Linked DNA regions of Homo sapiens. The protein of the gene in region 1 interacts with the protein of each later gene in a pairwise test. Each region holds a gene or a part of one and is shown in the gene's direction. Other genes may lie near its edges. The genes, in order: TBX6, KRTAP6-2, METTL27, C1orf94, KRTAP11-1, TCP11L1 and MAGED1.

Region 1 (4,228 bases):
AAGCGGAGGTTGCAGTGAGCCGATATCGCGCCGTTGCACTTCCAGCCTGGGCGACAGAGCAAGACTCCCTCTCAAAACCAAACAAACAAAAAAACCTCAAGTGCCTGCAAGGCCAAGCAGATACTGTAGATGTGTAAAGGGTAGCATAGATTGGCAGGGTTGGGAGTTGGGGGCAGGCTGGGCAAACTGGAGTGAGCAAGGCCTACTTATATTTTAATACTTTAAAGTTATTTTTATTAAACTGTCTGCTGTCCAAACATAATACATGTTGTAGGCCAAAATGGCCATGAAGCTACCAGTTTGCAAACCCTGAACTGTGAAATCTTTTAGCCACTTCCCTATCTTCTCTGTTGGAGCCATCATTAGTACTTAAAAAAGTACCTTTGAGTCAGGGAGTTCTATTCTACTCTGTGTTTGTGAGAAATACGGCCCTGCCCCTCTGGGCCACAGTTTCCTCATATGTAAAATGGGGCCACTCATGTCCACTTCCCAACCCCAGTGCCTTGTGGTGAGACTGTTGCTCCGGGGATGACGGTCCCGCCCCTCCTTTCAGGAACAGGCCTTTGAGAGCAGCCAGAAGTACAAAGAGGGGAAGTACATCATTGAACTCAACCACATGATCAAAGACAACGGCTGGGACTGACCCCCGCTCCCCCGACGCATGTGGCTCCAGCCCGGCCTGGCCGCCAGGGAGCGCCACTGGCTTCCCGCCACCCGAAGGGAGCTCTGGACCCTCAGAGCCCCTGCAGAGGACGGATCTAGCTCCTGTATATATATTTTATTGCATGCACTGTGACCTTGGGGGGAGAACAGAAGGGGGACGACGCCCCCGCACCTCCTGCGATCTGGCTGGCTTGGATCTCGTTTTTAACCCGTTCCTGCCCCACCTGCCCTATAGTTATGGCCTGTGTTCTGCTCTCCTGGTCCCAGTGCACCGTCTGCTCTGTGAACTCCTCCCACCAGGCCCTTCTTACCCCACGCGTGTCTGTCCCCCTCGTTCTGTAGCGTTTGTACATAATAAAACAATGGAGTGGAGACAGCTCAGGCTCGCGTGTAATCCGGGAAGGGGGAGCTCAAGCGGAGATTTCCGCCCCTATAGACCTGTGCGGTTCTGAGCCCCGGCGGGGCATGGGGTAGGCACAGCCGTCCAAGCTGGGTCTCCGGGAACCGGGACGGTTTCACTGCTGGCGGAGGTCCTGAGCCCACTCTGGCTGCCTACGCCGTGACCTCGGCTGATCTGCGTCTGCTCATCTGCAGCGTTTGGCCGCCGCCTAGGGGCAGCGTCCCAGGGAGGCAACCGCGCCGCCGGCCTCGCAGCCCCCTCGCGGTCGGACTGCAACTCCCAGCGGCCCCCGCGTGGTCCGTCCGGCTCCTTCGGGCGCGCCTCAGCGCTGAGCCTGCCGGGAAGTGTAGTTCCGAGGGTTCCCCAGCGCGGGACCTTCGGGAAACCCTGGCGCGAGGCGTCAGAAGCTGTCGGACTGTGAGCGCCTTCGAACTTTGGAGGCTTGGCTCGGGATGGAGGTTTTTTTAGCATGGGGACCAGGGAGGACTACGGTGCTCGGGACTGGGCTGCGGCCTCCTCGCGGCCCCGAGTGCCCTGTGAAATCAGCTCAGGCCGCGTCCCTCTAGCCTGCACTTTCCCTCTGTTCACGCTGCTTCCCTCCAGGGCCCGGCCTCCAAGTGAAGGGGGGCGGAGGGCGGTCACCTGCCAGAAGGTCTGGGGCGCCAAGGTGTGTCCCGGGACTCTTGGCTCCGTCCAGGTTCCAGGCCCCGCCCCCCAGCTTATCCCTAGCCGGGGCTCCCCACCGTGGGAACGGGGACCAGCTGGCCGGAAGCGCCAAACTGCGTCCCTGTCCGAGCCCTGGGGATCAATCAAGCCGAGGAGTTAATTATGTAATGAGGGGGCAGGGGGTCGAGGCTAATGAAGCCTCCCGGGGTGGGGAGGGAGGGGAGGAGGGGACCGTACCCAGGTATCCGACCCCCTCTCGGACCCCTTCGAGGCCCCAGGGGTCTCCACCCCAGCCCAACTCCAGGGCCCCAAAGAGGGGAGGGGCTGTGATCCTGGATCTGGAAGGGGCTGAGCTGTGAGCTATAAAGGGGGCATCTCGCAGCACCGGGGGCCCTAAGCAGCGAGACCTGAGGCCAGACGGAACTACAACATGTACCATCCACGAGAATTGTACCCGTCCCTGGGGGCCGGCTACCGCCTGGGGCCCGCCCAACCTGGGGCCGACTCCAGCTTCCCACCCGCCCTAGCGGAGGGCTACCGCTACCCCGGTGAGCGTTGGGACCAGCTCCTGGGTAGGAGAATAGGGGGGCTGTGGCCCTCGGCTGGCTCCTCATTCTTCCCCGGCTTCCAGAACTGGACACCCCTAAACTGGATTGCTTCCTCTCCGGGATGGAGGCTGCTCCCCGCACCCTGGCCGCGCACCCACCTCTGCCCCTTCTGCCCCCTGCCATGGGCACTGAGCCGGCCCCATCAGCTCCAGAGGCCCTCCATTCCCTCCCGGGGGTCAGCCTGAGCCTGGAGAACCGGGAGCTATGGAAGGAGTTCAGCTCTGTGGGAACAGAAATGATCATCACCAAAGCTGGGAGGTGAGGGGCTGGCCAGGGTCCGTGTTTCTGGTGGGGGTCTCTTGGGAAAGGCAGAGTCCCTGGGGAGGGGGCTAGGACTGGGTGGTTCCCGAGGGGCTAGAGCTCTGCCTAGGCCTAGAATCTGACTATGGCCTGGGGCAAGGGTTACTCTGTGGCAGGAATCAGGAGTCACTCTGTGACAAGGGTTAAGGGCCAGTCTGTGGAGTCTGTGGCTGAGTTTAGGGACCAATCTATGGCAAGGGTCATGGGTCAGTCTGGGGCAGGGTCAGGAAGTCCCTCTGGGTTATAGGTTAGTGTGTGGCTTAGACCAGCATCCAGACAAGGACAGGGGGTCAAGGGCCAGCCCATTGACCAGCATCAGGGAAATCTGGCCAGGATTCGGGATCAGTATGCAACTCGAATAGGAGTCAGTATATGACTAGGTCCAGGGTCACCCTAGAGGCAGGGACACGGTCAGTGTTTGACCTTAGATGAGGTCTTTAGCTGGGGCAGGAACTCAAGCCCTAGCATGGAAAGTCCTCGGCCCTACTGCAGGCAGGGTATATTTTTTCTAAAGCAAATTCATCTAAGAGCTGCAGATTCTGGTGCTGGAGATCAGGGGAGGAGAGGAGGGTGGGGACAGGAAGCTCCTAGCAAGAAAGTTAGTCACCCCTGCTTCTGCAAATAGGCTTTGAGGGGTAGGAGTCATGGCTCTGTTCCTAACCTGCTGTGTGACAGATCACTTAACCCGTCTGTCCTGTTTCCCCAAATGTAAAATGAGACAAGAAAACCTTCCAGCTCTAAGATTCCGCCCTCTGGCTTCTTTTTTTTTTTTTTTTTTTTTTTGAGATGGAGTCTCGCTCTGTTGCCCAGGCTAGAGTGTAGTGGCACGATCTCGTCAGCTCACCGCAACCTCTGCTTCCTGGATTCAAGCGATTCTCCTGCCTCAGCCTCCCGAGTAGCTGGGACTATAGGCACACACCACCACACCCGGCTAATTTTTGTAGTTTTAGTAGAGACGGTGTTTCACCATATTGGCCAGGCTGGTCTCAAACTTCTGACCTCATGATCCTTCCACCTCGGCTTCCTAAAGTGCTGAGATTACAGGCATGAGCCACTGCGCCTGGCCCTTTTTCATTTTTCAGAGACAGTGTCTTGCCCTGTTGCCCAGGCTGGAGTGCAGTGGTGCAATTGTGGCTCACTGTAGTCTTGACTTCCCAGGCTCAAGTGACCCTCCCGCCTCAGCCTCTGTAGTAACTGGGACTATCAGTGTGCACCACCATGCCTGGCTAATTTTTTAATTTTTTTGTAGAGATGGGGTCTTTCTATGTTGCCCAGGCTGGTCTTGAATTCCTGACTCAAGAGATCCTCCCACCTTGGCCTCCCAAAGTATAGGGATTAGAGGTGTGAGCCACAGCCTCCAGCCTGCCCTCTGGGTTCTAATTCCACCTCCTTTGATGTTTCTCTGACAGCTCTGGGGAGCCCGTTGTTATGTCCCGTTACTGGTGCTGGGCCCACCCCTGGCCAGTGGGTAGCTCCAGGCCTCTCCTGTCCCCTCCCTTGCACAGGCGCATGTTCCCTGCCTGCCGAGTGTCAGTCACTGGCCTGGACCCCGAGGCCCGCTACTTGTTTCTTCTGGATGTGATTCCGGTGG
Region 2 (2,024 bases), on another chromosome or scaffold:
AAAGATTTATTGGCATCATGACTCCCTGAGATGGCACAAGACAAGAGTTACATCTCTTCCCAAATGTATAACCTCAATCTACATATGAGGAAACCTTAGACAGATTCAATTGGGGAATATTCCACAAAATATCTGGCTCTCTAAAATTGTAAGGTCATAAAAGCCAAGAAAAGACGAATGAACCATGAGCAATTGGAGGTGACTAAGAAGTATAAAAACCAAATGCAATGTGAATTGGATCCAAGAACAGAAAAAAAGAACATTAAAATAAATATGTGAATAGTGCTACAATGAACCATGGTCCTAGAACTTAAAATAAAATAAGTTAATAATAACAGAAAAATGGTAAAATAAAGTCTGCAGTTTAGTTAAGAATACTGTACACAGTTAATTTCTTTGGTGTGATAAGTGGATTATGGTTATGAAAGATATTAATATTAGGGATGTTGAATGATGGATATATGGAAATTTTCTATACTATTTTGACAACTATCTCTATGCCTGAGATTATTTTAAGATAAGAAGTTAAAAGAGAATATAAAACTATTGTTCCATTTCATTGACTTGGTCACTTATTAATTCTTTTATAAATCAAGAAAATAACTTACATTTTCTTGTTCTTCCGTAGAGGTTGAACATAAAGGAAAATTAGACTCACTGGTATAAGTAGAAAAATACAACAAATTTTTCTCAGATCTGGTTTTCTAGAATTTTTAATTAGTTGAATTATTATCAACATCATGGCTTTAGTATAGAAAAGACACTAAATCCCTGAAAAAAGTATTATTTGGATAAAGAGAGCAGAAATACTAAAAGGGCAAAGTTATTGTTTGCTGAATGTTGTGCAAAAGAGTACAATTAATTGGGGCCTAGAGCAAATAAGAGTGTAACTAACAAAAGTCTTTCTTGATGTAAAGGATGGCTATAGAAAGTCTAGTTTGAGGCAGGATTATATGAGTGTGAGTGTGTGAGGTCTCCTTTCATCAGAGCCCTCAATCAGATAAGGGGAGCCCAAATTGCAAGGCCAAACAAAACAAGCCTCCTTAATACCTCTGCAGCATTATCTTACAATTGAGAAAAAACAAACTAATTATATTAGTCAAAAAATTAGCCAGTGGTATGCTACCTCTGCTGGATCATTCCCATCCTGAGGCATATAAAAGGACTTCTACAGGAAGTATCCATACTGAAGTCACCTACACTCCTTCCTACCCAAGGACAACCTCCACAACCATCACGATGTGCGGCAGCTACTACGGAAACTACTACGGCGACCATGGCTATGGGTGCTGTGGATACGAAGGCCTAGGCTATGGCTATGGAAGCCTGCGCTGTGGCTATAGCTCCTGCTGTGGCTATGGTCATGGCTACGGCTCCCGCTTCTTCTGTGGCTGTGGCTATGGATGCGGCTCTGGCTACTACTATTGAGGACACCGTGGGAGACTCATCCTCTATCCTGTGACATCGGGATTCACCAATTCTGAACCCCGTATGCTCTGAGCTCGGGGCTGGATGAAGATTATCTTATATTAAAAGTTTCTGATGTGATTTATCTGAAGACTGACCCTCCCACCCCCAGTACCCTCTGGATCTAGTATTTTCAACTTCCTTTTCTGCATTTAATGCATGAAAATTAAAATAATGTAAAATTCATCCTATGAACTCCTGTGGTCTCTCATCAAGATGATGCTGTTATAGATCTTGCTTTTTGATTTTCATGCAGGAACTTATTTTCTGTTTTCCTAATACACTTTTTCAATCTGGAATTACCATCCTGATTTTCTTTTCATTAGTATCCAGTATTTATCTTTTTAGCTTTCTTCCCAATTTATGTTAACCTAACAATGTCTCAACGTAACCCATGTTATCACTGCTTCAATAGAATAGAAAACCGAGCATGAACAGAGCAGAAAACCGTGCATCATTTATGGGTTGATTATTTGCGTATGAAAATCATTTACTGTCAAACTTGTTCTATGTAGTTCATATCACAACTCTACATAAATAATTTATAATCTAAATAA
Region 3 (2,713 bases), on another chromosome or scaffold:
TGTAAACTTTGCACATTGCGCTGCCCGGGCAGGTGTGTTTCCCGTCTCCTGCTGTGTTCTTGCTCAGCGCTTTGTTCTGCTCTGGGCAGAGGGCTCAGACCCTGCCCTCTGGGCCTTGATCTCCAACCCACTGGGGCCCAGGAAGGGGCCAGAGAGCACAGGGCCTGGTCAGAGGTGGCCCCACGAGAGCCGTGAGTGCTCACTGCTCCCAGAATTTATTTATTTATTTAATTTGAGACAGAGTCTTGCTCTGTCACCAAGGCTGGAGTACAGTGGCACAATCTCAGTTCACTGCAACCTTCACCTCCCAGGTTCAAGAGATTCTCCTGCCTCAGGCTCCCAAGTAGCTGGGATTACAGGAGCCCACCACCACACCCAGCTAATTTTTGTATTTTTAATAGAGATGGGGTTTCATCATGTTGGCCAGGCTGGTCTTGAACTCCTGACCTCAAGTGATCGCCCGCCTTGGCCTCTCACAGTGCTGGGATTATAGGCATGAGCCACTGTGCCTGGTCCTGCTCCATGAATGTAGAGAAGAGAGGCATTTCCAAGACCAGGTGAGGAATCCACATGGGGTGCACCCTAAGGCAGAAAGGAGAGGGGCTGAGCATGAGAACGAGGAGGCGCTGGCTGGCTGCAGGACAGGAAATCATAGAGGTAAAAATGCTTCCTCTCCCTCCCGTCTCTGCCAGGCCCAGCAGAGGCTGTGGCTAAGCCTGGGCAGGTCTGGGCAGGCATCTGGGGAGCCCTGAAGGCTGACAAATGCAGGGACACGGATGGGGTCAGCTGGAAAGGTCGAAGTTGGGCCCAAGAAGACAGGAACTTTCTACTGGGTGAAGCAGCCAGGATCGGACTTCCTAGCCCAACCTGTGCTTGCTAAGCCCTTCAGCCCCATCAGGCTGCCCATGGGTGACAGTCTCCCCTGCTCCGGAGCCTCTCCTCTCACTGCGCTCCCTTCTATCAGCAACACCCTGCTTCTCCTTACCCCCTCCTCCAGGAAACCTTCCCAGACCAGTCACTTGGGCTTCCCCATCTCTCCTTCTCAGTGCACTTGGGGCCACCCTGGGCACGCACACTATAGGTGCCTGGACCTGAGGTGACAAGGCCATTCAGCCGGCACTTACTGTAGGGCACTTCAAACACACATACCAGCCTTCCTGTGATGTTAGATAATCATCCTCTCTGTGCCAGCTGGGAAACTGAGGCCCAGAGAGGTGAAGGGATAGCCCAAGATCCAAAGCCCACATGGGAACTTTCTTCCTGTCCATTCAGACACAGTCACATCCTCCAGCAGAGGCGTGGGTGAGTGGTGAGTGGTGAGGAGGGTGTCTCCTCAATCCAGGAGAATTACGTCAAGAATTCCCCACCAGGCACAGTAGCTCACCCCCATAATCCCAGCACTTTGGGAAACCGAGGCAGGAGGATCCCTTGAGCCCAGGAGTTCAAGAGCAGCCTGGACAACATAGCAAGACCCCATCTCTACAAAAAAAAAATGTTTAATTAGCCAGGCGTGGTGGTGAGCACCTGTGGTCCCAGCTACTCAGGAGGCTGAGGTGGGAGGATTGCTTGAGCTCGTGAGTTGGAGGCTACAGTCAGCTATGATTGCTCTGCTGCACTCCAGCCTAGGAAATAGGGTGAGATCCTATCTCAAGAAAGAAAAAAAAGGGGGGGTGGGCAGGCACAGTGGCTCACGCTTATAATCCCCAGCGGGCAGATCACCTGAGGTCAAAAGTTCGAGACCAGCCTGGCCAACATGGCAAAACCCCATCTCTACAAAAAATACAAAATAGCCGGGCGTGGTGGCACGTGCCTGTAATCCCAGCTGCAAGGGAGGCTGAGACAGGAGAATCACTTGAACCCAGGAGGCGGAGGCTGAAGTGAGCCAAGAGCATGCCATTGCACTCCAGCCTGGGTGACAGAGCAAGACAGGGTCTCAAAAAAAAAGAAAGAAAGAAAAAGGAATTCCCAATGTAAAAGACACAGAAAGACTGCCCTGGGAAGGAAGCTGGAAGAATTTCTTTTTCTTTTTTTTTTTTTTTTTTATTGGAACATTAATTAGGTTTTATTTTCACTTTTTGTTTCCACAGTAACATGTATGGGATTAGGTTACAGTGTTTATTTGTCCCCAATCTTTTATTTATTTATTTATTTATTTATTTATTTATTTATTTTTAATTGATTGACTTTTTATTTTTTTTTATTTTTTTTAAATTTATTTATTTATTTATTTATTTTTTATTGATAATTCTTGGGTGTTTCTCACAGAGGGGGATTTGGCAGGGTCATAGGACAATAGTGGAGGGAAGGTCAGCAGCTAAACAAGTGAACAAAGGTCTCTGGTTTTCCTAGGCAGAGGACCCTGCGGCCTTCCGCAGTGTTTGTGTCCCTGGGTACTTGAGATTAGGGAGTGGTGATGACTCTTAACGAGCATGCTGCCTTCAAGCATCTGTTTAACAAAGCACATCTTGCACTGCCCTTAATCCATTCAACCCTGAGTGGACACAGCACATGTTTCAGAGAGCACAGGGTTGGGGGTAAGGTCATAGATCAACAGGATCCCAAGGCAGAAGAATTTTTCTTAGTACAGAACAAAATGAAAAGTCTCCCATGTCTACTTCTTTCTACACAGACACGGCAACCATCCGATTTCTCAATCTTTTCCCCACCTTTCCTGCCTTTCTATTCCACAAAGCCGCCATTGTCATCCTGGCTC
Region 4 (3,500 bases), on another chromosome or scaffold:
CGCCCAAGAAACCTACATGTCCAGCCGAGAAGAACTTGCTCTATGAGTTCCTTGGGGCCACCAAGAACCCAAGCGGGCAGCCGAGACTTCGAAACAAAGTGGAAGTGGATGGGCCGGAGCTGAAATGTGAGCTGACCTACCCAGGGAGGGATTGGAGGGGAGGGGGTTGCAGTGACCCTCACAGGCTTCAGGGTGGCTCTGTCACCAAGTGGCTGTCTTATCTACTGCCTTTCTAGAGGTGTCAGTTTTTAAACCCATAAAATGGGGGCAATGACTTTCTCCCCATATCCCTTGTTGGGAATACAGTTGCTAGAGAAGTGTAGTTGGCTTTCAAGGGTCACGTCAGCATTATTAATGGTCACTTCTGAATATAGCCCTGACCCAGCATGTATTATATCCTCTCAAATTGCCCAAGCCAAAACAAAAGATCCTTGCTTTAGATTATTTCTATATTGAGATTATGTTCCCGCTTTCTTTTCCTACAAGGGTTCTAGTCAAACCTCTTTTCCCAAAAGGATGCCAATAAGGGGAAACTGAGGACCCATTTCTGATTTTATAAGCCCCCACAACATCTTGTAGAAAGGAAGAATCCAGGATTCTGATCTTGAAACAACTCAACCTAACTTCATTTGTTTAGACCAATTTTGAGTCACTGCATGCTGAATTATTTAATGTTTTAAAATATAATTTTTAAAATTCCCATATAGATACAACAACCTGTGAAAGTTTCTTAGTGTTGCCAAATATATGTCCTTAGGGAGGGGCTGCTTTAATCATTTGATAAGGATGAATTCCAATGGCATAGCAATGGTTCACATAAAGTTGGATTTTTCCAAAGCAGTTGAAAGAATTTCATTTTGTAAGTAGGTGAAATATAGGCCTAGCAATCTGGCTTATTGTATTCCCTTGCTAAATTGCCTTCTTTACTAGTGAATGATGGAAAGAAAAGCTCCAAGCCAGACCTTCTGGGATTTTCATCCCTTCCAAACTGGCAAGGTGTGAACTAATGATGTTTACCTATAGTTGGAAATGTACTAGAACTTTGAAGAACCCTCTTGGAGCTTAAAGGACCTGACCTGTGAGACTGTGAATCCCTAAGGAAGTTGCGATGCTGAAGGTGTCCTGGCCTCTCCCTGCCTCCATCACTGACCCGCTTTGCCTCTCCTGTGACTTGCAGTTAACGCACCTGTGACGGTTGCTGACAAGAACAACCCGAAGTACACAGGGAATGTTTTCACTCCACACTTTCCTACAGCCATGACCTCAGCAACCCTGAACCAGCCACTCTGGCTCAACCTGAACTATCCACCTCCACCAGTGTTCACGAATCACTCTACCTTCTTGCAGTATCAGGTCAGTGAGCTGGCCTGGCTCTCCTGTGGACATCCACGGGGGTTTTGGCCACAGAGAAGGAGTGGCTGGCAGGGGGTCTATTTCACAGAGTCTTTAGACTCCTCTGAATCCCTTCCCTACATGCAAGAGGCTTCGCTGGGGCTATGGAAGGGCGCTGTCAACTTGTCAGCTTGTTGGTTATTTTTTTCATTGTAGTCACATCAGATCTACCCCTTGGTTCATGTGCATGCGTGCGCACACCTCCACACACACACACATATGTATATTTAGTCCTAACTTTCCATTGTCCGAATTCCAGTTCACACTGTGCTCTTTATTGCAGAGTCTCTTTGCTAGTTGTGGCTGGTTAAGTGCTTGGGCTCCCAGGAGAAGATGATGTCACAGTCCTTGTTTCCCACCTCTCTCCTGTGACTTCCTTTGAAGTTGGATGACATATATCCCAGATTATTTGGGACAGTCCCAATTTAGGTCTTCTGTTCCAGAATAATATGAATGGCATCCCTTTTCACTCTCAAGTGTCCTGGTTTGGACAACAAATTACAGTCAGCCCTCTGTATCCATGGGTTCCAAATCCACAGATTCAACCAATCTTGGATGGAAACTACTTGAAGAAGAAAACAACAACAACAACAACAAAATACAACAACAAAAAATAATGCGAGTAAAAGATAATACAGTATAATAACTATTTACATAGTACATTATTAGGCGTTGTTAGTAATCTAGAGATTAAAGGATACAGGAGCATGCGCATAAGCTACATGCAAATACTATGCCATTTTATATTAGGGACTTGAGCATCCTCATATGCCATTTTATATCAGGCACTTGAACATCTTTATATGTCATTGTATATCAGGGACTAGATCATCCTCATATGCCATTTTATTTTATTTGAGACAGAGTCTCACTCTATCGCCCAGGCTGGAGTGCAGTGGCATGACCTTGGCTCACTGCAACCTCTGCATCCCAGGTTGAAGCGATTCTCCTACCTCAGCCTCCCAAGTAGCTGGGATTACTGGTATGTGCGCTAATTTTTGTATTTTTAGTAGAGACTGGGTTTCACCATGTTGGCCAGGCTGGTCTTGAACTCCCCGCCTCATGTGATCCACCTGCTTCCACCTCCCAAAGAGCTGGGAGTACAGGGGTGAGCCACCGCACCCGGCCCTCAAATGCCATTTTATATCAGAGACTTGAGCATCTTTGTATGTCATTTTATATCAGGGACTTGAGCATCCTCAGATTTTGGTATCCACAGGGCAGGGGAGGGAGGGTGGTCTTGGAACCAATCCTCTGAGGATACCGTGGAATGAGTGTATATGGCCACCTTACTTAAACTACACCAAGCAGTCTTAGCTTTGTACCAACCAAGGTGGCTTGGCACACATTCTTGTTCTTGGGATCATAGCTAAAGGAGAAAATCAATGGCCAGACACAAAGGGACAGTGAAGCACCTGTAGCAGGGCTGGAAATTCTACTCACAGAACTTATTTATGCAGGGAAAATGTAGTTTCTTTATTTTGTCGATTTAACTTAATATCCCTTAAGAGCTGCCGCCCACTGGGTAGAAGGAGGGAAAAATTAAATAAATGTCCACTCTGGTTTAAGCCTTAGCCCAATCCAATAACTTAAATAGTCCCTTTAGGTAGAACTCAATTTTTTCAGGAAAGATTCTCCATGCCTAAGATTTCTGTCTTCTGTTCCTCGCACTGGCTTCTCTCCAGAATTGTATGTCATTGTATGGGGAAGGGCAGGAACTCAAATTTGTGCACTCAGGACCTTGGCAATTTGCTGCCCCAGCCTGGCCCAGCACAGCCTGAAGTGAGAAAGCAAAGAAGGAAATACTTCCAACTCGGCTTGTCCTGTTGCTATGTCCCTTCCCCGCTCTCCACTCCTAGGAACCCTATGTCATTCTTTCCCTTTCAACACAGCACAAACCTTATGTCCTATTGGGAAAGGGGATTGGCTCTTCTGCATATAAAGACTCTTCAAGCTGGTCCACCAGGCTTAGTTTCTGAATCTTAAAGGAACTTAGCAAAGTCTCTCTCTGTTTTGTTTTCAAGCTTTTTGTTTGTGTGTGTGTTTGCTAAAGAGAACAAGTACCCGTCCCCTCCCGAGGGAGGGAAAGCTCACACCCCATTGTGGAG
Region 5 (2,831 bases), on another chromosome or scaffold:
TTCTGATGAGTCCTGACATAACGCTGTTTGCTTTGTGGATATTTAAAACATAGCTTACCTGTAGCCCTCAAATACATGGAAATCCATTTTATTCCCTTACGCTCCCTCATGTAAGCTAGTTTAAAAATGAGTCAGATGCTACAGCTGTTTTGGGACAGAAATACCACTGACCACTTGAAGCGATGTTGAAGTTGCTTATTTTGCCAGAGTTGAGGCAGTTTATTCATCTATGTTCAGGTGGACCCAAACGAGCCATCATTCTGGTGTTTAAAATTCATTATATTGTAGTGAGATGAAATAAAATAGAGTGATATCCCTATAGCTTCCCCAAGCATAAAAAGAATAATTAAATATAGCACACTCTTCACACATCTCTTCATTACCAAACATTGATTAAGTGCCTGCTTCCCCCAGCTCTGCCTCCCCCTTATCCCTGATGGAGACAATGACCTTGAAGAGCCTTTAGTTTGTCCATAATTAAAATGCATTCTATCTATATGTGTGAAAATAAATATCTTTTGAACATATTGAACAAATTGGGAGAAAGACACTGTACCCTTTCAAATTAACATTATGATAATTTTAAAAATTAACTAAGCCTTTTCCACTGGCATATTAATGAGACCCAGGAGTCACTATTATCCACTGTTATTAAATTAAACATTTTAGGAATAAAGCTCATCCAATTTACTTAGAAAAGGTCTTGGCTACAAATACAGTTGCACTTAGTTAGCTTCTAATTTGCTTTGTTGGTTGAACATAAAGGGTGGGTCCCACTGCCCTCTAGCCTTCCCACGGGCATCTTGTTTGAGTCAGTTGATTAATTTTGAGAGCCAGCTCAGACTTTGGATACAAGTCTCTGTGCCCTTTGTTCCTGTCAAGTGTTGTCACTGTTGTCTTGAAACATATTCAAGGAGGCACCTTCCCAATGAGGAGCTCCGTTAGGTGTGGTAGAGTGACTGATTAAGTTATGTTTAAAAGATATTAAGTCCAGTGACAAATGAAACAGGGCATGGGCTTGTAATTGGTCCTGGTAGGGAGGGAGAGAGTGTGTGATGGTAGGATGGTGGCATCTTTGGTAGGATGAGTGTCAGGTCAACACTCATCATAAGCAAGATGAATGAGGGACAACGTGTGGGCTGGGATGACCAATAGCTTTGAAGCTGCCAACCAGCCTTCTTAATCAGACTAAGTACAGTACAGAAGACTTGTGATTTAGTTACCAAACTACTAAACTTTCTTTATGAGGGTGAAGGCTTCTTAAGAGACAATTAATGTGTAGATTCACAAGATGTTCTAAGGCAAACTGGTCTGAGCCAAAGAAGCCACGGAGACCAGGGAGAGAGCCCCACCCACCAGCAAGGATATATAAAAGCTCAGGAGTCTGGAGTGACATTCACAACTCAGGAGGTAACTTCAGCAAGCTACCTGCAGCCCTCTGTCTGACATCATGTCCTTCAACTGCTCCACAAGAAATTGCTCTTCCAGGCCCATTGGAGGACGCTGCATTGTTCCAGTGGCCCAAGTTACCACGACTTCCACCACTGATGCTGACTGCCTGGGCGGCATCTGTTTGCCCAGTTCCTTCCAGACTGGCTCTTGGCTCCTGGACCACTGTCAAGAGACCTGCTGTGAGCCCACTGCTTGCCAGCCAACCTGTTACCGGCGAACTTCATGTGTCTCCAACCCTTGCCAGGTGACTTGCTCTCGACAAACTACCTGTATTTCCAACCCCTGCTCAACTACCTACAGCCGGCCGCTCACCTTTGTCTCTAGTGGATGTCAGCCCCTGGGAGGCATCTCCAGTGTCTGCCAACCAGTGGGCGGCATCTCTACTGTCTGCCAACCAGTGGGAGGAGTCTCTACTGTCTGCCAGCCAGCCTGTGGGGTCTCCAGGACGTATCAGCAGTCCTGCGTGTCCAGCTGCCGAAGAACCTGCTAAGTGTGTAGGAGCCAGTGAGCGAATCAAGACTCCACGACCTGCCAGCTGTTTCCAGGATCTTCCAGCATGCTGCTTGTCCCTGAATAGCTCTTCATAGCTGACCCTTCTTGTGACCGCCTGACTGCTGGCTACTATCCATGCACACGCTGTCTTTAGCACTCTAAAATTTTTCTGGCCAGCCCTAAGCTTGTTTTAAGGGTTGCTCACTGGTGCTGTGTATGCCTCTGGATGTGTCCAGAAGCTTTACCATCCACACCCCAGTCTCTGATGCTTTTGACATGTTTTCACCTTGCTGCTGTATCTCCTGGCCTCTGCTTTTGTGTCTCACAAAAACAGAGCTTGTCTCACCATGTATTTCTCAATAAACCTGCATTAGTTGGCATTGCAAATGTATGTCTCAGCAGAATTCTTTTTTAAACATTTCAACTTTTAATTTAGTTTTTGCGGGGTACATGTGCAGGTTTGCTACAGGGGTATACTGTGTGATGCTGAGGTTTGGGGTATGATTGAACCCATCTGTCAGGTATTGAACATAGTACCCAATAGGTAGTTTTCCAACCCTTTTCCTCTTCCTCACTCCCCGCTCTTCCAGTTGCCAGTGTCTATTGTTTTTATCTTTATGTCCACGTGTACCTAATGTTTAGCTCCTACTTATTAGTGAGAACAGGTGGTATTTAGTTTTCTCAACAGAGCTCCTTGTTTGCAAGAGTCTTTGCTGATCAGGGTCTGATTTTTTTTTTCCTGAGCCTAGAATATGGGCTTAATCATTATGCCCTGTGACCAAACCAAGGATTATCTTATATTTTACTTGTTCAGAGAGAGTCTTCAGCTGTGCGGTGAAGTAAGGGCTATGATTTTTCTTTTCTTTTCTTTCTTTCTTTTTCTTTTT
Region 6 (3,500 bases), on another chromosome or scaffold:
TTCCTAATTACTGGCAAGAAGGTAATAAAAATATTTGCCCCACACATTCCTCTTAAACATTTCATAAGATTCTGTTTTCTGTAGGGCGCAGTGGCTCATGGCTGTAATCCCAGTACTTTGGGAGACCGAGGCAGGTGGATCACCTGAGGTCAGGAGTTCGAGACCAGCCTGACCAACATGGTGAAACCCCGTCTCTACTAAAAATACAAAATTAGGCCAGGCGCAGTGGCTCACGCCTGTAATCCCAGCACTTTGGGAGGCCAGGGCAGGTGGATCATGAGGTCAGGAGTTCGAAACCAGCCTGGCCAACATGGTGAAGCCCCATCTCTCCTAAAAATACAAAAATCAGCCAGGCATGGTGGTGGGCGCCTATAATCCCAGCTACTCAGAAGGCTGAGGCAGGAGAATCACTTGAAACCGGAAGGTGGAAGTTGCAGTAAACTGAGATCGCACCACTGCATTCCAGCCTGGATGAAAGAGCGAAACTCTGTCTCAAAACAAAACAAAACAAAAATTAGCTGGGCGTGGTGGCACCCACCTGTAATTTCAGCTACTTGGGAGGCTGAGGCAGGAGAATTGCTGAAACCTAGCAGGCGGAGGATGCAGTTAGCTGAGATTGCCCCATTGCACTCCAGCCTGGGCAACAAGAGCAAAACTCCATCTGGAAAAAAAAAAAATTCTAGTTTCTGTCATCTCTGGGTATCTTATTCACATGATAATATCAAGGAATCAACCCTTTAGCCCAGTGTATTCACTTGTAAGCCCAATTAAAAGCATTATTTCCAAGGAGTTTACCTATCTGCTCTTAGGAATGAAAGTAAAGAATTTAAGATTGAATCACTGATTAAAATTGTAGCAGCAGGTAGTTTAGAGTGTGTCTTCTAATAGTTTAAGGCCCTGTATTCTTGAAACATGCTACTTAGGAGTAGGACAAAAATATTCCAACTAACTACTACGTGAGATCCAGAAATCTGATAAATTACAAATGTCATTTTACAAGTATCTGTTTAGTCATTGAAGTAGAATATAGCTGGATAAGATCTTAGCAAGCTCATTTATTCTACAAACGAGAAAACTGAAACCCAAAGAGGTTAAATGATTTGCCCTGAGTCACATTGCTAGTTGGTGACAGAGCTAGAATACTTTTAGTTCTTTTTTTTTGTTTTTTTCTTTCCTAGGAAAGTGAATAAACTTAATTGAGAATGTCTGAAAACCTTGACAAGTCCAATGTAAATGAAGCAGGAAAATCAAAATCCAATGATTCTGAGGAAGGCCTCGAAGATGCTGTGGAAGGTGCTGATGAAGCCTTACAAAAAGCAATAAAGTCAGACTCCTCCAGCCCCCAAAGAGTGCAGAGACCTCACTGTAAGCAAATTTGACTTTGGTTAGATGCAATATTGTCATTGTTTTCAGGTGACGGTTTTATGAGGCCTCCTTGTGCATGTGGCCGTGAGCTAGGTTCTAATAATATAACATTGCCAATGTAGCATTTAGGAATAATAGCAGTTCCTCAGCTGGCAGCCTAGCTACTTGTGGATTTTCAATTGCATGGGAAATTAACAATTTAGAATAATGTCCAGAACGTTCCTGTCTTTCTCCAGCCTCAGTGACACTCCAGTCTCTGAAGTGCTCTGAGAAATAGGAGGGTGGAGTATAAATTGCAGCTTGTATTGAAAGAGTGTTTGAAAAGTCTGAGGCTAATTCCAGCCAGGACTGTGCTTGTGCAGGTTAAAAAAAAATGTGAGTAAGTTCACCACACCCTAATTCTCTGCCTGGGGGCTTAGTTCCCACAAGCTTGAGGGGATTCAGTTTGCTAAATGTGTGTGGTGAAGTCATTTCAGATCCCTGGCAAGGAGCAAGCCTCTTAAATGAAAGGGTGGCAATATCTTCAGGCATTCCCAGTGGTTGCCTCAACTCACGTCTTTTATGAAGAGTACCTTAAGCATTTTGAAGTGAGTCCAAAAATGCAAGTTTTTAAGAGGGAATGTCATAGTCTAAGAATGTCGGTATTGATGTTATCCCTTTAAATTGTAGATGATCAGTAGTTGTACGTATTTGGAAAAAGTACAGACATTTTTGGGTTTTGGGGTGTGTTTCTTCTAAAATGATCAAAGCCCTTCCCGGGCAATTTATTAGTCAACATACTATTCTTCTAGCAAACATTAATGGACCCTATTTTATTCTGATTTATTATCACATAGATTTTAATAAATCAACTATTAGGTCAAATTGTGTCCAAGGAAACATGTTGTTGCTAGCACAGTCTATCATGCATTTGTCAGGCCTGACTCCAATATGTGTAGTTAGAAAGCTTCTGTTTTCCTGTCTTTAAAATGAGGAAAATACAATATTTCTTGGGGTAGCAGTAAAGATTAAATGAATTCCTATAAGGCACTTAGAACAGTGCTTCACAGGTAATAAATGCTTAATAAACATTAGTTGTTGTTACTACTATTGCTACTAACATTATGTCATCTATTGCATTTAAAGATGCCAGGATTGGCCAGGCATGGTGGCTCATACCTGTAATACCAGCACTTTGGGCGGCTGAGGCAGGAAGATCACTTGAGTCCAGGAGTTCAAGACCAGCCTAGGCAACATAATGAGACCCCATCTCTACAAAAAATAAAAATTAGCCAGGCATGGTGGTGCATGCCTATAGTCCCAGCTACTTGTGGGGCTAAGGCAGGAGGATCACTTGAGCCTGGGAGGTGGAGGCTGCAGTGAGCCGAGATCACGCCACTGCACTCCCGTCTGGGTGACAAAGTAAGACCCTGTCTCAAAAAAAAAAAAAAAAAATTAGCTGAGCATGCACGTGGTTGTAGTCCCAGCTACTTGGGAGGCGGGGACAGGAGGATCACTTGAGCTGGGGAAGTCAAGGCTGCAGTGAGCCGTGATTGTGTCACCGCACTCCAGCCTGGATGACAGAGTGAGACAAGCCTCTCTCAAAAAAATAAAAATAAAAAAAATAAAGAGGCCAGGATTGATTGCTGTAATGTAGATGTATATGGCTAACATGATAGCTTTACAACCTATAGTTTCTGCTAAAGAAGAACTTTTGGTTTAGGTCTTCAGTCACCCTTTATTGGTTGGTTGGTTGTTGGGATGGCCAGACCCAACGTGGAGGTGACGAAGTCCAGTGGAGTCAAAAGAATGAAAAAGACAAGTTTAAGAGTGCATAAAGTGGGTCCGGGGGCCAATGCTAGTATGGAGGCTGCGAAGGCCCCGAGCTCTGGAAGCCTGCACTATTCATTGGTGATGAAACAAAGAAGCAGGTGGTGAGGATGTGGGGGTTGAAAGAAAGCAGTGTATCAAGCACATGATCTACAGCTGTGACGGTTTAGCATTTTCTTTGCAGCATATGGAACATGTTCTGCTACTTGAGATAATGGGAAACATGTTCTAGTTTAAGATACAATAGATCTATGAGCCTAGGAGTGCTAGAAGCAAGGAGCCAGCAAGTCTAGACACATTCCAGAGGCCACGCCCTGAGCCCTGGA
Region 7 (3,116 bases), on another chromosome or scaffold:
CTCCAGCTAGGCAGACCCCACCAGCCTGGCAGAACCCAGTCGCTTGGCAGAACCCAGTGATTTGGCCAAACCCAGTAATCTGGCAGAACCCAGTGATCTGGCCAAACCCCATTGTCTGGCCCGGCCCTGTTGTCTGGCCGAATCCACTGGCCTGGCAGAATCCACCTGGATGGCAGACTCCACCTGGATGGCAGACCCCACCGGGCTGGCAGGGTCCTCCAGACTGGCAAGGTCCTCCTGACTGGCCGCTACCACCCGACTGGCCACTGCCACCTGATTGGCCACTTCCCACTGACTGGCCACTACCACCTGACTGGATCCCCGCTGATTGGCCAATTCCACCTGACTGGCAGAACCTGCGCCCCTCGCCTAACCTGCGCCCTTCTCCCAACTCGCGTGCCTCACAGAACCCAGGTGCTGCACAGCCCCGAGATGTGGCCCTTCTTCAGGAAAGAGTAAGAGCTGTAACTCCCCAGTCACTTTTCCCCTCTCTTGCTCTTTTCTTTGTCATCCTCTCATCTGTAATTCAACCAAGTTTTTTTGTAAATATTTTATAAGTTTAATGATTTCCTTTTTCCCTCCCAGGCAAATAAGTTGGTCAAGTACTTGATGCTTAAGGACTACACAAAGGTGCCCATCAAGCGCTCAGGTATGCATCCAGTGTCCCCTCCCCAAGCTCTGCCCTTCCCTTCACTCCATGCTCTGTCAGCATTCTTCTGCTTGTAGCTCTGCCCTTCCCTTCACTCCATGCTCTGTCGGCATTCTTCTGCTTGTATGACCCTTCCCCTTCTATCCCCTCCTTTCCATGGTTGGCTCTTTCCACCCTTGAGGACCTTGACTGTGCTACCCCCAGCAGGGCTGGCAAAGGGACTGCTGCTCTGTGGCCCCCGCTCGGCTCAGATGGCTCCCTCCTCTCTCCTACAGAAATGCTGAGAGATATCATCCGTGAATACACTGATGTTTATCCAGAAATCATTGAACGTGCATGCTTTGTCCTAGAGAAGGTGAGAAGGCAGCCCTGGGGTACAGGAATAATGGGGAAAGTCTTGATTTCAAAGATTCATGGGGTTCCTACTGGGAGTTTAGGGCAAGTCTCAGGGAGATGAGTGTCTGCCTATGGGTAGCTTATGCTAGATGTTGTAATTTCATAGTCTGTTTTCTTGCCCCTGTAGAAATTTGGGATTCAACTGAAAGAAATTGACAAAGAAGAACACCTGTATATTCTCATCAGTACCCCCGAGTCCCTGGCTGGCATACTGGGAACGTAAGATGGGAAAGAAGGTGGAACATGGCCTTTCTCAGTGGTGCTTTTTTTCTAGGAGTTTCACGTAGATCAGGGTCCAGGGTTCAGGGTCACATAGCAGGTCATGGGCAGAGCTGGGGTATAATTCTCCCCTAGCTGAGGAATATTGGGGAGGCTAGATGGGCAAGCTGGTTGGGGTCTCTCATGCAAATGGCTACTGAAAATATATTCTTTCTATATTCCCTTAGGACCAAAGACACACCCAAGCTCGGTCTCCTCTTGGTGATTCTGGGTGTCATCTTCATGAATGGCAACCGTGCCAGTGAGGGTGAGTGGCTGGACCTGCAGCTGGGGGTTGGCCACAGCCTGATTTCCATGCTTATTTTCCGTCCCTTGTCTCCCCTTGCCTCCCATTGCAGCTGTCCTCTGGGAGGCACTACGCAAGATGGGACTGCGTCCTGGGTATGATTGGGCTCTCTCATCTCTTGCCTGTTTGTGCCATCCTTTGGCAACAGTGGATGGTCCCAGGATTGCATTAACCTGGGGGTCTGGAGGGTTTGGTTTGGGGATGTTCAGAGCCCAAAGATGTGACCTGGGTGGATGGGGAAACAGTTCTGAACTCTCTGCCTCTTTTCTCATCTCTGACCTCTGTTCTGGAAAGCTCTTTGGGCATGGTAATAGCCTCTGATTGTGGGTTTCCTTTTTTTACCTTCAGGGTGAGACATCCCCTCCTTGGAGATCTAAGGAAACTTCTCACCTATGAGTTTGTAAAGCAGAAGTAAGTGATGCCTAAGGGGCTTTTCCTGCTTCTTATGATTCTGCCTGTGTGCTGGTCAGCTTTAGAAAGCCCTTCCTGGCTGGATACAATGGCTCATGCCTGTAATCCCAGTACTTTGGGAGGCTCAGGTGGGCAGATCGCTTGAGCCCAGGAGTTCAAGACCAGCCTGGGCAACATAACGAAACCCCATCTCTACAAAAAAATACAAAAATTAGCCAGGCGTGGTGACATGCACCTGTAGTCCCAGCTACTTGGGAGGCTGAGGTAGGGGAGAATCATCTGAGCCCAGGAAGTTGAGGCTGCAGTGAGCTGTGATCATGCCACTGCACTCCAACCTGGGCAACAGAGTGAGACCCTGTCTCAAAAAAAATAAAAGAAAGCCCTTCTCAAGCTCGTTTCTTACACTATACTTGTGCATATGTGTTTCTGTGCATACAGAAACACTTATGTCCTCAGGAGTATTTATTGCATATACTCCTCATGGTTAAATTCTTTATTTTTTATTTTTTTATTTTTTGAGACGGAGTTTCGCTCTTGTTGCCCAGGCTGGAGTGCAATGGCGTGATCTCGGCTCACCGCAACCTCTGCCTCCTGGGTTCAAGCTATTCTCCTGCCTCAGCCTCTTGAGTAGCTGGGATTACAGGCATGTGCCACCACGCCCACCTAATTTTGTCTTCTTAGTAGAGACGGTGTTTCTCCATGTTAGGCTGGTCTCAAACTCCCGACTTCAGGTGATCTGCCTGCCTTGGCCTCCAGAAGTGCTGAGATTACAGGCGTGAGCGACCGTACCGGGCGAATTCTTTTGTTTGTTTTTTTCGAGACTGAGTCTCACTCTGTTGCCCATGCTGGAGTGCAGTGGTGCAATCTTGGCTCGCTTGAACTTCCACCTCCCAGGTTCAAGCAATTCTTGTGCCTCAGCCTCCCGAGTAACTGGAACTTCAGGTGCGTGCCACCGTGCCCGGCTGTTTTTGTATTTTTAGTAGAGATGGGGCTTCACCACGTTGGCCAGGCTGGTCTCAAACTCCTGACCTGAAGCAATCCACCCACCTCTGCCTCCCAAAGTGCTGGGATTACAGGTGTGAGCCACCACACCCG

What was found.
Region 2: the proteins of TBX6 (region 1) and KRTAP6-2 interact in binary tests that used the Homo sapiens proteins (3 or more experiments, as listed by UniProt).
Region 3: the proteins of TBX6 (region 1) and METTL27 interact in binary tests that used the Homo sapiens proteins (3 or more experiments, as listed by UniProt).
Region 4: the proteins of TBX6 (region 1) and C1orf94 interact in binary tests that used the Homo sapiens proteins (3 or more experiments, as listed by UniProt).
Region 5: the proteins of TBX6 (region 1) and KRTAP11-1 interact in binary tests that used the Homo sapiens proteins (3 or more experiments, as listed by UniProt).
Region 6: the proteins of TBX6 (region 1) and TCP11L1 interact in binary tests that used the Homo sapiens proteins (3 or more experiments, as listed by UniProt).
Region 7: the proteins of TBX6 (region 1) and MAGED1 interact in binary tests that used the Homo sapiens proteins (3 or more experiments, as listed by UniProt).

The regions. Positions count from the first base shown.
Region 1 is NC_000016.10:30,089,125-30,093,352, reverse strand, and holds the start of TBX6 (T-box transcription factor TBX6), read left to right. Parts: upstream 1-1,428; 5' UTR 1,429-1,480; intron 1,481-1,818; exon of another isoform or gene 1,819-2,111; 5' UTR 2,112-2,159; coding exon 2,160-2,277; intron 2,278-2,360; coding exon 2,361-2,595; intron 2,596-4,142; coding exon 4,143-4,228. Other genes in the region: YPEL3 (protein yippee-like 3), read left to right, coding at 554-643. UniProt on the Homo sapiens protein: T-box transcription factor that plays an essential role in the determination of the fate of axial stem cells: neural vs mesodermal. Acts in part by down-regulating, a specific enhancer (N1) of SOX2, to inhibit neural development.
Region 2 is NC_000021.9:30,598,090-30,600,113, reverse strand, and holds KRTAP6-2 (keratin-associated protein 6-2), read left to right. Parts: upstream 1-1,211; 5' UTR 1,212-1,239; coding exon 1,240-1,428; 3' UTR 1,429-1,524; downstream 1,525-2,024. UniProt on the Homo sapiens protein: In the hair cortex, hair keratin intermediate filaments are embedded in an interfilamentous matrix, consisting of hair keratin-associated proteins (KRTAP), which are essential for the formation of a rigid and resistant hair shaft through their extensive disulfide bond cross-linking with abundant cysteine residues of hair keratins.
Region 3 is NC_000007.14:73,836,804-73,839,516, reverse strand, and holds part of METTL27 (methyltransferase-like protein 27), read left to right. Parts: intron 1-479; exon of another isoform or gene 480-657; intron 658-2,713.
Region 4 is NC_000001.11:34,200,907-34,204,406, forward strand, and holds part of C1orf94 (uncharacterized protein C1orf94), read left to right. Parts: coding exon 1-126; intron 127-1,177; coding exon 1,178-1,353; intron 1,354-3,500.
Region 5 is NC_000021.9:30,880,144-30,882,974, reverse strand, and holds KRTAP11-1 (keratin-associated protein 11-1), read left to right. Parts: upstream 1-1,394; 5' UTR 1,395-1,450; coding exon 1,451-1,942; 3' UTR 1,943-2,331; downstream 2,332-2,831. UniProt on the Homo sapiens protein: In the hair cortex, hair keratin intermediate filaments are embedded in an interfilamentous matrix, consisting of hair keratin-associated proteins (KRTAP), which are essential for the formation of a rigid and resistant hair shaft through their extensive disulfide bond cross-linking with abundant cysteine residues of hair keratins.
Region 6 is NC_000011.10:33,042,572-33,046,071, forward strand, and holds part of TCP11L1 (T-complex protein 11-like protein 1), read left to right. Parts: intron 1-1,178; 5' UTR 1,179-1,202; coding exon 1,203-1,365; intron 1,366-3,500.
Region 7 is NC_000023.11:51,896,623-51,899,738, forward strand, and holds part of MAGED1 (melanoma-associated antigen D1), read left to right. Parts: coding exon 1-455; intron 456-585; coding exon 586-649; intron 650-924; coding exon 925-1,004; intron 1,005-1,172; coding exon 1,173-1,264; intron 1,265-1,491; coding exon 1,492-1,571; intron 1,572-1,662; coding exon 1,663-1,705; intron 1,706-1,958; coding exon 1,959-2,021; intron 2,022-3,116. UniProt on the Homo sapiens protein: Involved in the apoptotic response after nerve growth factor (NGF) binding in neuronal cells. Inhibits cell cycle progression, and facilitates NGFR-mediated apoptosis. May act as a regulator of the function of DLX family members.